4 linked regions of the Homo sapiens genome follow. The protein of the gene in region 4 purifies or fractionates together with the protein of the main gene of each other region. This does not show direct contact. Each region holds a gene or a part of one and is shown on either strand. Other genes may lie near its edges.

Region 1 (3,500 bases), on a different chromosome or scaffold from region 4:
CACTCTATTAAATCTTGCAACTGCACACTCTTCTGGTCCGTGTTTGTTACGGCTCGAGCTGAGCTTTTGCTTGCTGTCCACCACTGCTGTTTGCCACTGTCACAGACCCACCGCTGACTTCAACCCCTCCAGATCCGGCAGGGTGTCCACTGTGCTCCTGATTCAGCGAGGCGCCCATTGCCGCTCTGGATCCAGCTAGAGGCTTGCCGTTGTTCCTGCACGGCTAAGTGCCCAGGTTCGTCCTAATCCAGCTGAACACTAGTCACTGGGTTCCATGGTTCCTTCTGTGACCCATGGCTTCTAATAGAGCTATATCACTCATCGCATGGCCCAAGGTTCCATTCCTTGGAATCCGTGAGGCCAAGAACCCCAGGTCAGAGAACAAAAGGCTTGCTGCCATCTTGGGAGCAGCCCGCCCCATCTTGGGAGTGGCCTGCCACCATCTTGGGAACTCTAAGAACAAAGACCCGCCGGTAACATTTGGTGGCCCGTACGGCGCTTCTCCAAAGCGGTGAGTAATACTGAACCACTTTCACTTGCTATTCTGTCCTATCCTTCCTTAGAATTGGAGGAAAATAACCGGGCACCCATCAGCCAGTTAAAAACGATTAGCGTGGCTGCTGGACTCAGGTGTGAGGTTTCCTGGGAAAAAGCTTTCTAACAACCCCCAACCCTTCTGTGTTGGGAGCTTTGTTCTGCCTGGAACCAGCTTCTGCTTTCACAATTTTCCTAGGGAAGCCGAGGGTCGGCTAGAGGCAGAAAGCTGTCGTCCTGAACTCCTGGCATTGGCCGGTGGAGATCATTGCACAGCCAGAAGTCTCTACTCAACAGTTGCCCATGTGTGTGCCCCTACCTCTCCTTCTGACCCATATCTCCTGGGTCCTAACCATGACTTTCTTGAAAGTGTAGCCCCAAAATTCTCCTTACCTCTGAATCTACTTCCTCTGATCCCTGCCTCCTAGGTACTAATGCTTCAGACTTTCACTTCCGTTCCCAAGTATTAGAGCAGGTTGTATCTCCAAAGGGATCTAAGGAAGCTCTACGCTGTGTCCTTAAGCACCTAGGCAATGAACCCAGGGAGTCTTGGCCCTGGTGACTCTCCCAATTCAGGCATACAGCTCTCGACATGGGCAGTTATGTGGGACCCGTTCCCCACCACCCTTGCCAGGGCCTTAGAATTGATAACCCAGTACTTTAACAACTGGAACTGGGTCTACAACAACATAATAGATCAGGTTGAAAATGAATTGAGTAAATTAAAGGGAGGCACATATTCCTATAGTGGCAAATGGGGGCAACAAGCGAATGTCCTTCCACTATGTTTCCAAAATCCTTCTACAGAGGCAGAGAGGAGAAAGAGAGAGGCAGAGAGGGAGAGAGAGAGGAAGAAACAGAGACAAAAGATGAGTCAAACAGAGAGAGACAGAAAGTCAAAGAAGAAAGAGAGAAAGAGAAAGATAGAAATAGTAAAGGAAAAACAGTGTGCCCTATTCCTTTAAAAGCCAGGGTAAATTTAAAACCTGTAATTGATAATTGAAGGTCTTCTCCGTGACCCTATAACACTCCAATATTACCTTGTTGTCAATGTAAACAAGGGCATAGCCCAAAACACTGAGACCACTGACAACCCATAGCCTTCCTATCAAAAATTCTTAACTCAGTAACCCGCGAATGGCCCAAATGCATTCAATTGGTAGCGGCAACTGTCTTGCTAACAGAAGAAAGTAGAAAAATAACCTTTAGAGGAAACCTCATTGTGAGCACACCTCACCAGTTCAGAGCTATCCTAAATCAAAAAAAGCAAAAAAGTAGCTTACTAACTCAAAAATCTTAAAGTATGCGGCTATTCTGTTAGAAAAAGGTGATTTAACACTAACCACTGAAAATTCTCTTAACCCAGCAGATTTCCTAACAGGGGATTTCAATCTTAATTACCATACAAAGTCCGATCAGACCTAGGAGGAACTCCCTTCAGGACGACAGATGGTTCCTCCCGGGTGATTGAGAAAAAACCACAATGGGTATTCAGTAATTGATAGGGAGACTCTTGTGGAAGCAGAGTTAGGAGAATTGCCTAATAATTGGTCTGCTCAAACGTGTGAGCTGTTTGCACTCAGCCAAGCCTTAAAGTACTTACAGAATAAAAAAAAAAAAAAAAAAAAAAAAAAACAACTCTATCTCAATACTGAGTCAAAAGTTTACCTACACCCTCTCCAAAACGAATTCGCATAAGAACTGTTGTTTATGGGAATGAATCTGGATGGGGCAGCTGGGTTGTTTGAAGTACTCAGGAATCCAGCCCAGCTCTAGGACTCACCCCTGAGCCAAAGGCAATGTTGGGCATGCTGGTAAAGGACCACTAGAATCCAGCAGCCTGGACCCCTTTCTTTGTGGTCAAGAAAGGCAGGAAAAAGGGTGCAGGACTGCTACACTGGTGAGTGTAACTAATCCGATAAGCAGAGGTCCATGGTTGGTTACACACCCTGGAAAGGAATAAGCATTAACACCATAGAGGACGCTCTAGGACTAAAGCTCATTGGAAAATGACTGGGGATCCTGGCATCCCTATGTTCTTTTTTCAGATGGGAAACATTCCCCCCAAGGCAAAAATGCCCCTAAGATGTATTCTGGAGAATTGGGACCAATTTGACCCTCATACGCTAAGAAAGAAACAACTTATATTCTTCTGCAGTCCCGCCAGGCCACAATATACTCTTCAAGGGGGAGAAACCTGGCCCCCTGAGGGAAGTATATATTATAACATCATCTTACAGCTAGATCTCCTTTGTAGAAAGGAGGGCAAATAGAGTGAAGTGCCATATGTGCAAACTTTCTTTTCATTAAGAGAAAACTCTCAATTATGTAAAAAGTGTAATTTATGCCCTACAGGAAGCCCTCAGAGTCTACCTCCCTGCCCTGGTGTTCTCCCAGCTCCTTCCCCAACTAATAAAGACCCCCCTTCAACCCAAACAGTCCAAAAAGAGATAGACAAAGGGGTAAACAATGAACCCAAGAGTGCCAGTATTACCCGATTACGCCCCCTCCAAGTGGTGGGAGGAGGAGAATTTGGCCCAGTCAGAGTGCATGTACCTTTTTCCCTCTCAGACTTGAAGCAAATTAAAATAGACCTAGGTGAATTCTCAGATAACCTTGATGGCTATATTGATGTTTTACAAGGGTTAGGACAATCCTTTGATCTGACATGGAGAGATATAATGTTACTGCTAAATCAGGCACTAACTCCAAATGAGAGAAGTGCCGCCATAGCTGCAGCCCGAGAGTTTGGTGATCTCTGGCGTCTCAGTCAGTTCAATGATAGGATGACAACAGAGGAAAGAGAATGATTCCCCACAGGCCAGCAGGCAGTTCCCAGTGTAGACCCTCATTGGGACGCAAAATCAGAAGATGGAGATTGGTGCCGCAGACATTTGCTAACTTGCATGCTAGAAGGACTAAGGAAAACTAGGAAGAAGACTTTGAATTATTCAATGATGTCCACT
Region 2 (3,500 bases), on a different chromosome or scaffold from region 4:
CACATATGTATAAATACTGATAATTTCCACAGTCTTTCATAACTTTTCATTTTTGTTTTGTGAATTCTCTAATGTCCAAAAATATTTTTAAAATAATTTAATGAATGCCATTACCTAGATTCATCAATTGTTTCATTATTGTCATTTTTTATTCTCTCGTTCTCTGTATCACTATTTCAGAGTATCCTATGGATTTCTTCACTTATTTTACTTAATGTTTTAGTAAATAGTGACGTATATACATATACATGATATATGTCATATATATGACATAGGTTTTATAATATATATCATACGTGATGTATATTTTATGTATCTAACTAATTAGAAAACATACACATATGTATGTATTCTGGATGTTAATTCTTTAGAGACTTGTATGAATTCTTGAGAATATATGAAATAATATATCTATATATATTCATATTCATACATATAACTATTGATATATTATTTCACACATATCATATAAATGATAGATTAATTAGGAACATGCCCTCTAACAATCACATGTCCCTGTGTCCACTTGCTTGGCTATATGAATTTCCAGTTCCTTCCAGTAAGAGGTGGTGTGTGTTTCCCCACCCCTTGAGTCTGACCTGTCCTGTAACTTGCATTAGGTGATAGAATTTCCCAGAAGCAATGGTTGGTGTCTCTGAGCCTAGACCTAAAAAGGCTTTGCACATGTCCATTCACTATGCTGGGGTCATGCCCTGTGCTGAGGTGAACCCTGGGCTGGATGGCTGGAGGATAAAGAACTGCATGGGAGAGGGGGGCACTCACACAGATGCCCCAGGGACATCCTGAAGCAGAGCTGCCTCACTGCCCTGAACACACATGAGAGCCCAGCCAGGAACAGAAGGAATGGACTGAGTTTAGGCTGAGCCCAGGCTAATTTTCTAACCATGGAACCTTGAGCTCAATAAATGCTTTTGCATTAAGCCTCTATATTAAGTGGGTTTGTCTTATATCCTAAGGTATTGGTATAAATATGGTCTCCTACACATAAAAATAAAGACACACAACCACCTCGCCAAAAAAAAAGGCAGAGTTAAACAAGCACTTCGCAAAGATAAAATTCTAAGAGAATAAATATAAGGAATTTATACTACATAAACATACAAGAAGAAAAATCCGCCATGAGTTGGAGACTAAAGAACATCTAATCAATGCTTCATTATAAAAAATAAAGAAAAGGACATGGCCCCAGTAGAGGGATATGGATATCACTGACTTAACGCTAACCCAAATCTGTAGTTTTGATCCCATCCTATTACTCTCCACCTCTGTTGCCTCTCCTGTGCTAGAGTAGAAGAAACCCTTATGACGTACACAAAGAGTTCATGCATAGGAAATACAGGGAAATGGAGCTGGCCCAAGGCTGTCCTGAGAGCCTTACAAGAAGCACACGTGTGAAGGACACTGTGCAGGAGACCTGAGGCCCACAGCCCCGCTCCTCACCTGCACGTTCTGTCTGATGCGCTGCTCATTGTAGCTCTTGGCCAGGACCACAACCCCACGCTGCAGCTGGTAGCGCAGGGCAATCAGGGCTGGGGTTCGCTTGTGCTTTTTTGCCAAGGCACAAAGGACTGGGTCCTCCAAGAGCACCGGGGAGTTCGGGTCCACCCTGGAAGGAAAGGCAGAAAGGCTGAGGCCCTGAGGCTGGCGATAGTTTGTTAGGCGGCTCCCTAAACAGACTAAGGCGTCCACTCTGCACCGGAGCTTCTCAAGCGAGGCCCCCGAACAGCAGCCTCAACATCACCTGGGATCTCGTCAGAAATGCAAATTCTTCCCTCACCCCAAGTCAGCTGTGAGTGAACTCCAGGAAACAGCATGATCTGATTAAATTTTTTTTATCAAACCAGTGTTTTAGGTAAACTTCCTGTATCTCTTATTACCATGGTTCTTCTCGATGGGATCCCAGAGCACTATAGGCAACCAGAACAATGTCTTTTGACTTGCAGAAATCCAGCAGTTTTCTCTGGTTGAAGTAAGGATGACATTCCACCTGCAGACGAGCAAGATGGAAAAGCATCAGATAATCCAAAAGTTACATTAATATTAAAATCACCAAAGTAAAAGAAGCTGAATAATGTAGAGCATTAAATTTGAACTGAGAATATTATTGTCAAAAATGATCTTTTTCATAAAAATAAATTTTATGCCCCTCTCTCCTAAGAAAATAGAAATGCTATTTCTGAGCACAAGCAACTCCATGAACCCTATCCTGGTTTCTCAATAACTCCGACCACTAGAAGGAGACACGGCCAATTTCAGAGCTGGGATGAGGTAAGATTCTTTGAGCCTTGGGCATCAAATCGTGCCAGAAATCAAGAATTTGGTCAAAGACTCATGAGGGCAGGTCTGAAAAACAAAAGAACTAGTTTCCTAATTAATACCAAAAATGCATACATATATATGTATGTTTTCTAATTGATCTGACATATATATATCATATATGCCATCTATGATATATATCTATATAGATGAACTAGAAAATATACATATACACATAAATACTGATAATTTTCACAGTCTTTCATTACTTTTCCTTTTTGTATGATGGATTTGTATGTTGATATCTCAAATGTCACCAGTGGGTTCCCTATGAAACAAGTGCTTTTGTCTTTTACACTTGCCCTCATGAGTCTTTGATCACATTCTTCTTTCATATATATTATATATATATAATATATATATATATGCTGAGTAGATGTGAGCATTAAAAAATGAGTAAAATAAATTAAAAATCATAACACAAGAATCCGTGAGTCTGTAGCAATTAGTGCGACAATGAGAAAAAGAACAACAATCTTTGTCTACTCTGATGGTGGTCATTACAGTAATTACGTTCACAGTACATTGCTAATTGAAGGAAGAAGTTTACCTTTACTCTCACTTAGAGGAATAGTAGTTTATTATTTTTACTTGGTGAGAAATTATTTTTAATTAAATGTCAGGTAAGAATAGTTAAACAAGTGGTTAAAATTGTAAATGATTATGTAAAAACCCCAAGGAAATAACAAATAAGAAATAACAAAGAAGAAAACAGAAATGCAGTAGAAAAAAGTTCAAATCACTGATGTATACTCAATCATATGTGAAAATTTGTCATGGGAATATGACTTCTTCTGTTGAGAATTATCCCCCAGCAGATTACTAGTAATTGTTAAAGAGAAAACATGAGTTAAAAACAACAGATCTGACCACTGTTAGCTTAACCAAGTTTTTAAAACTACCTTCACCACTAGTGGGGCATTCTGTGATTGTATGCAGTCTAGTGTCGTGCAATTTGAAAAACACAGCATGATAAAAACATTTTCTTGCCCCAAAGTTTTAAGCCAATGTAATAAAATACTCACATCTAACTTTTAATTTACAGGAACCTTCAACTGGGAAAAACAAGTTAACTGATATCAAATACAACAATATAAAAACAATTGAATTCTGGTTAAAAAAAGAAGAGCTACAAAAGATATTTTGATTAAGCAATGAAAAAT
Region 3 (3,500 bases), on a different chromosome or scaffold from region 4:
GGTTTCCTGGTTTCTTTAGCATTGAGAAGTCATTTCTGCGTCTCGAAGGCCACCCACGTCTTTAAACGGATCCTACCTTGCTGAGCACTTGGCTTCGATCTGCAATGTCTATATATACGGCTTCCACGTGTTTCCACGCCTCAGGCTCCAGCTTATGCACCTGTGGGAACAAGTGGGGAACCACTATGCAGTTTTTGTCAGTTATAAAATATCCTTTAGCCAGAATGGACACCTAGGAACTGCCATTCCCATAGCCACAGATGTAAGATTCCTAATGATAAGTAATTATACAATTACATACAAAATTATCCAAAGAAATGGGAGAATGGATTTTTTTTTTTAAGAGATGGGGTCTCACCGTGTTTCTCAGGCAATGGCTATCCACAGGAGTGATCACAGCACACTCTAGCATGAACTCCTGGGCCGGAGTGATCCTCCTGCCTCAGGCTCCTAGTGATCCTCCTGCCTCAGCCTCCTGCCTGGGACCGAGGGATCCTACTGTCTCAGCCTCCTGCCTAGGCCCGAGTGATCCTCCTGTCTCAGTCTCCTGAGGAGCTGGGCCCGAGTGATCCTCCTGTCACAGCCTCCTGAGGAGCTGGGCCCGAGTGATCCTCCTGTCACAGCCTCCTGAGGAGCTGGGCCCTAGTGATCCTCCTGTCACAGCCTCCTGAGGAGCTGGGCCTGAGTGATCCTCCTCTCTCAGTCTCCTGCCTGGGCCTGAGTGATCCTCCTGTTACAGCCTCCTGAAGAGCTGGGCCCGAGTGATCCTCCCGTCTCAGCCTCCTGAGGAGCTGGGCCCGAGCAATCCTCCTGTCACAGCCTCCTGAGGAGCTGGGCCCGAGTGATCCTCCTGTCTCAGCCTCCTGAGGAGCTGGGCCTGAGTGATCCTCCTGTCTCAGCCTCCTGAGGAGCTGGGACTATAGGTGCACAACACTGAACCCAGCTGGATTGTCTGTTTGTCTGAGATGGAGTCTTGCTGCGACGCCCAGGCTGGAGTGCAATGGCGCGATCTCGGCTCACTGCAAACTCTGCCTCCCGGGTTCAAGCGATTATCCTACCTCAGCTTCCCGAGTATCTGGGATTACAGGCGTGGGCTACCACGCCCAGCTAATTTTTGTATTTTTAGTAGAAACAGGGTTTCACCATGTTGGCCAGGCTGATCTCAAACTACTGACTTCAAGTGTTCCACCCGCCTTGGCCTCCCGCCCAGCCCCCGCTGGATTTTAAGTGACATGACTGAGAACGAATGCTCTGACTATTGAGGGTAAACGTCACTTCTGCAGGTCAAAACGCCTTCCGGATGTTTACGGTGCCCACACCATTTCCATGTGTTCCCGGCTGTACAGACTGTAAACCCTTCTAGAGATGGTGTCTGTTTAGCAACATGCTGACCCGCTGTAAAGACTGTAAACCCTTCTAGAGATGGCGTCTGTTTAGCAACATGCTGATTATTTTGATCAGGCTGTACATGCACATAATACAAAATTATGACACAAATTCAAAATTACAAAAGGATACAATATAGAGTAACTAGAGTAACTCCTCTTCTTGCTTGTCCCTCGTCCCCAGTCTAGTAACAGCCACCTCTAAGAGATCCTACATACAAACATCCATGTGCGTGGATTTTTCTTTTAATATGAAGGGCGGCATGCACACACCTTGTTTCATAACTTCCATCCTTCACTGAACAGTCAACTTGAAGACTGCTCTCTATTGGTTTTTCCATGGCTGCAAGGATGTCACTATTTGGCTGAACCACAATGCATTTAACGTTGTCCTACTAACGGGCCTTTTTTTTCTCTTTTTTTTTTTTTAAGACAGTGTCTCGCTCTGTCACCCAAGTTGGAGTACAGTGGCGTGATCTCGGCTCACTGCAAGCTTCGACTCCCGGGTTCACGCCATTCTCCTGCCTCAGCCTCCTGAGTAGCTGGGACTACAGGTGCCCGCCATGAAGCCTGGCTGTTTTGTATTTTTAGTAGGGACAGGGTTTCACCGTGTTAGCCAGGATGGTCTCGATCTCCTGACCTCGTGATCCGCCTGCCTCGGCCTCCCAAAGTGCTGGGATTACAGGCGTGAGCCACCGCACCCGGTCTAACGGGCTCTTATGTTGTTTTTTTGTTTTTGGAGACAGGGTGTCACTCTGTTGCCCAGGCTGGAGTGTGGTGGTGCAGTCACAGCTCACTGCAGCCTTGACTTCCCAGCCTCAAATGATCCTCCAGCCTCGGCCTCCAGAGTGGCTGGGACCACAGGCACATACCACCATGCCCAGCTAATTCTTTTTTTATTTTTGGTAGAGACAGAGTCTTGTTATGTTGCCCAGGATGGTCTTACATTGTTTTTGATCTTTGGCTACACAAAGAAGACTGCAATGAGTCTCCTTGTATATATGTTATTTCACACATGTGAAAATAACTGTCTAAATTCTTGGGCATGGAAATGCTAAAGGATAGGTGTATTTTATTTTTTGGGAGTTACTGCAAATTGTGCTCTATAGAAAACTGTAATTTTGGTCTTTTAAAGATATAGCTCCCATGTACCAGGAACTGCACCAATCCAAGCAGTACGAGAAGGCCCCATAAAAAGTTCCGGAGATCACATTTTGCAAATCAGAGACATAGCAATCCCATGCTGGTAAGATAGGTCTAGGCAGAGGCCACTGCCTTCCCGGCCAGGCAAAAGAGGACCACAGAGAGGACCCCATGGTAGCCCTGGAGAGGCTACAAGGCAGAGACTCAAGACCTCACCCCTGGGGCTTTTGGGAACTACTACTCACATTCTCCTGCGTGCCAAGATCTGGTTTGTGCCAGGTTTCAATTTTAATCAGAAAGTCTTCTTTCATGTACTCATTCTGGAAGAAGGAAAAAAAATACATGAAAGTCACTAGGTTCACAGTTGAGAGTAACCATCTCCCATTACTGGAGATGGGCATTACTGGATCATGGGCAGCTAGGAGATTCCAGCCTCTGCCTTGTAATAACAGTTAACTTGACTGGGAGCCCACGACACACTAGGCATGTATTATCCCATTCAATCCTCACCCCAGCCTGAGAGCTCTGTAGAATCACCCTCATTTTACAGATGAGGTTCAAAGAGGTTAGGTGACTTAACCAAAGTCACAGAGATCGGGCCAGGCATGGTGGCTCACGCCTGTCATCTCAGCACTTTGGGAGGCCGAGGCGGGCGGATCACTTGAGGTCACAAGATCGAGACCAGTCTGGCCAACAGTGGTGAAACCCGTCTCTACTAAAAATACAAAAATTATCCAGGCATGGTGGCGGGTGCCTGTAATCCCAGCTACTCGGGAGGCTGAGGCAGGAGAATCGCCTGAACCCAGGAGGCAGAAGCTGCAGGGAGCCGAGATTGCACCACTGCACTCCAGTCTAGGAAACAACAGCAAGACTCCGTTTCGAAAAAAAAAAAAAAGTCACAGAGATCACGACAGAGTTGGGTCTCAAAACAGTTTCGTCTGACTTCAGAATCCATGCATTTAGCCACTCTGG
Region 4 (3,500 bases):
TGCATAGAACTAAAAAGTGTTTTACAATTGGAAGAAAAAAGTTAAGTGCCACCTGAAGGAAAGACTGGCTTCCTACTGTGTATACAGGGACATCATCTTGTAATATTCACTCCTAAGAAAGTTCTACTTATTTGTTAAGCTTAATGCTACTGGTAAGTAGCTGTCACTCAGCACAAGAAAAGCTTTTAATTCAGGCCCTTAAATCCATTTTGTAGTGGTCTCAATTTTTTCCTAAGTGTATTAACTTCTCTATGTTGTATACCTTACAGCTCAGAATTTTCAACAGATGCTATTGGGCATAACAGTGTATAGGTTTCAAGCATGAAACCAAATCTCACAAGAGATTTAAAAGCACTTGAATTTTCTTTCCCAGGTAACCACAACATTTGTTCATTGTATAAATGACTAAGGAAAAAATTGCACCTAACAAGACTCTTATTATACTAAAAGTCAAGCTTATATTTAAAGATGCTGGCTTGTTGTACAGAGGGTATTCTCATTCCCCACAGGGAATAAAATTAGGTCCCCTGGAGAGTAGAATAATTCCCAGAAAGAAAGCACTGGATTATTTCTCTCTAATTTCACCTATTGGCTTTTTAACCAAGTTCACCCTTCCGCATTAAAATATTAAGTCTTTGTAAATGCCTTAAAGATAAAAAGGCCTTTACAGAGTTGAGTGTTTTCTGCAGGTGAGATTTTACATTCTGAATTCCCTCCTCTCAAATTACTTTACAAAGGGGATTAACTGCTCTCTTTATTCAAATACGTTAAGATCAAGCTTGCGAAAAGAGTCCCCTAAGAATTTTCATACTTCTGGGTACGGAAGTCTATAAAGTTAATCTCTGAAACAACATATCAAGCTTACAGGTACAATGTTGAGAGAAGAGTGCCAATTCAGCTCATTTTACCTTCCATTTTCCCTTTTGAACTTTTGACACAATCATGATTATATCTGATTCACTCTAACAGAAAGGGGAGGGGTGAGGGGGAAAAGTACTTTCCCTTCTATGATTAGCTAATAGTTTGATAGTTTATATACTTAAATTTAGAGGACCATGATTAGCTTAAGAAAGTTCCTTTAGTTTTCTTAACTGGTTATGATTTCTCTTTTTGCATGAGGACTGCTTTAGAGTTTAAAGTCACATCAAGAAATTCAAACATCACTTGCCCATTACATATGCAGTGGTTAACTTAGCCTGTTAAACGTCTTCCTCATCATTACAAGGATTTGTAATTCAATGTAACTGATTAAAATAACTAAGTGCAAAATGTGGGTTTTTTTTTTTTGTTGTTGTTGTTGTTTAAGGTACTGAACTATCACTGCTGAAACTCCTGTGATTGGTCACTTTCAATTTATTTAACTTTCATAAAATGATTGAAGGGCGGAGAGGTTTTTTACCTACAGCTTCAGGAGGACTAAACTATTATTTACTGATCATCTATAAAAGGGCACCATGCTAGATAAGGGAGAATCATTATTTATAATGATGAATAAGATGCAGACCTGGCCCTTATGAAACATACACCAATCAAGGTTAGAAAATAAGCATATAAAAAGTTGAATTTCCATGGTTAAAAATACTACAAACTGGCTGGGCATGATGGCTCAAGCCTGTAATCCCTGTACTTTGGAAGGCTGAGGTGGGAGGATCACAGGAGTTTGAGACCAGGCTGGGCAACATGGTGAGACCCCCATCTCTACAAAAAATAAAAAATTAGCTGGGCAGGCTGGGCGTGGTGGCTCATGCCTGTAATCCCAGCACTTTGGGAGGCCAAGGCGGGTGGATCATCTGAGGTCAGGAGTTCGCGACCAGCCTGGACAACATGGTGAAACCCTGTCTCTACTAAAAACACAAAAATTAGCCAGGCATGGTGGCGGGTACCTGTAATCCCAGCTACTCGGGATGCTGAGGCAGAACTGCTTGAACCCGGGAAGCGGAGACTGCAGTGAACCAAGATTGCGCCACTGCACTCCAGCCTGGGCAACAAGAGCGAAACTCTGTTTAAAAAAAAAAAAATTAGCTGGGTATGGTGGCACATGCCTGTAGTGGGAAGATAAGGTGTCAGGATGGCTTCAGCCTTCGAGGCTGAGGCTGCATGAGCTGTGATCACATCACTCACTGTATTTCAGCCTGGGTGACAGAGGGAGACGGTCTCAAAAAAAAGGGGGGCATTTTGGTGAATACATTATCCATTACTCTATTAAATACACATAACTTTTGAATGAACAATTTCAATGGGAATTAATCCTACAAATATTTCCACACATACAAAAATATTTTAGCATTGTAATAGACACAAAAAAAAACCCCAAAAAAGACCAGAAACAATAAATCTTACATTACAAGCTTATATTACACAGCTTTTTACAAAATATAACTCAGCCATAGGTTAATCAGAAAAGCTGTCTAGAATGTATGACATGTAAAAAGTTTCAGGCTGGGTGCGGTGGCTTATGCCTATAATCCCAGCACTTTGGGAGGCTGAGGCGGGTGGATCACTTGAGGTCAGGAGTTCAAGACCAGCCTGGCCAATACAGTGAAACCCCATCTCTACTAAAAATACAAACATTAGCCGGGTGAGGTGGCACGAGCCTGTAATTCCTGCTACTCCGGAGGCTATGGCAGGATAATCGCTTGAACCCGGGAGGCGGAGGTTGCAGTGAGGTGAGATCATGCCACTGCACTCCAGCCTGGGCGACAGAGCGAGACTCCACCTCAAAAAAAAAAAAAAAAAAAAAGTTTCAGAACAGTATATTATATAGCATAATACCATTTGTATAATATGAAAAGCACGGAAGAATTGACAATTGATTTGGCCCGGATTCATTCATTCTTTCCCCTCCTTTTCTTTCCTTTCCTCAGTCTCTCTGCTTCCCCTCCCTCTCCCCCTCCCTCCCTCCCCTTCCTTCCTTTAGAGACAGGGTCTCCCTAAGTTGCTCAGGCTGGTCTTGAACTCCTGGGCTCAAGGGATCCTTCCACCTCAGCCTCCCAAAGTGCTGGAATATGAGGTGTGAGCCACTGCGTACGGCCAGTCAGGACTCTTTTTCGTTTTGTTTGTTTTTGAGACAGAGTTTCGCTCTTGTCGCCCATGCTAGGGTAAAATGGCGCGAGTGCAATGGCCTCAGCCAGGACTCTTTTAACACAGAGCTAGCCATACTATAAGACAGCTGAAAATGGTGAAAATAGTGTGAGCTAAATGCAGAGAAGAAACAAGTACAGTGTATATTTAGTATATAATTCTTGAATATTCTAAAGCATAGGGAATGATGGGAAATAAAACTGAAAAGTTTAAATTGCACTCTAAATATGGGGCTAAGGTGACTACCTGTGAGCATCAGGAGTTAATAAATATGTTTGAATAGAAAAATGATAGCTATGAACAGAAAAAATAGAACAGAGAAGTTACTACAGAAGTAGAAGCCACAGATGAGCTGCATGTAGCATTAAGGTGTAGAATTAAGAACAGATGGCTCTAGTTGATTCCTAGGTTTATCTGCT

The links.
Region 1: the proteins of SNX3 (region 4) and ANO3 purify together in Homo sapiens (affinity purification with mass spectrometry; one large-scale study listed by BioGRID and IntAct). This does not show direct contact.
Region 2: the proteins of SNX3 (region 4) and AKR1C2 fractionate together in Homo sapiens (co-fractionation; one large-scale study listed by BioGRID). This does not show direct contact.
Region 3: the proteins of SNX3 (region 4) and PITPNA fractionate together in Homo sapiens (co-fractionation; one large-scale study listed by BioGRID). This does not show direct contact.

What each region holds. Positions count from the first base shown.
Region 1 is NC_000011.10:26,594,130-26,597,629, reverse strand, and holds part of ANO3 (anoctamin-3), read right to left. Parts: intron 512-3,500; exon of another isoform or gene 456-511; intron 1-455. UniProt on the Homo sapiens protein: Has calcium-dependent phospholipid scramblase activity; scrambles phosphatidylcholine and galactosylceramide.
Region 2 is NC_000010.11:4,993,858-4,997,357, forward strand, and holds part of AKR1C2 (aldo-keto reductase family 1 member C2), read right to left. Parts: exon of another isoform or gene 3,383-3,500; intron 2,290-3,382; exon of another isoform or gene 2,180-2,289; intron 2,009-2,179; coding exon 1,899-2,008; intron 1,811-1,898; exon of another isoform or gene 1,721-1,810; intron 1,628-1,720; coding exon 1,462-1,627; intron 1-1,461. UniProt on the Homo sapiens protein: Cytosolic aldo-keto reductase that catalyzes the NADH and NADPH-dependent reduction of ketosteroids to hydroxysteroids.
Region 3 is NC_000017.11:1,538,793-1,542,292, forward strand, and holds part of PITPNA (phosphatidylinositol transfer protein alpha isoform), read right to left. Parts: intron 2,849-3,500; coding exon 2,774-2,848; intron 161-2,773; coding exon 77-160; intron 1-76. UniProt on the Homo sapiens protein: Catalyzes the transfer of phosphatidylinositol (PI) and phosphatidylcholine (PC) between membranes. Shows a preference for PI and PC containing shorter saturated or monosaturated acyl chains at the sn-1 and sn-2 positions.
Region 4 is NC_000006.12:108,226,541-108,230,040, forward strand, and holds part of SNX3 (sorting nexin-3), read right to left. Parts: intron 1-3,500. UniProt on the Homo sapiens protein: Phosphoinositide-binding protein required for multivesicular body formation. Specifically binds phosphatidylinositol 3-phosphate (PtdIns(P3)).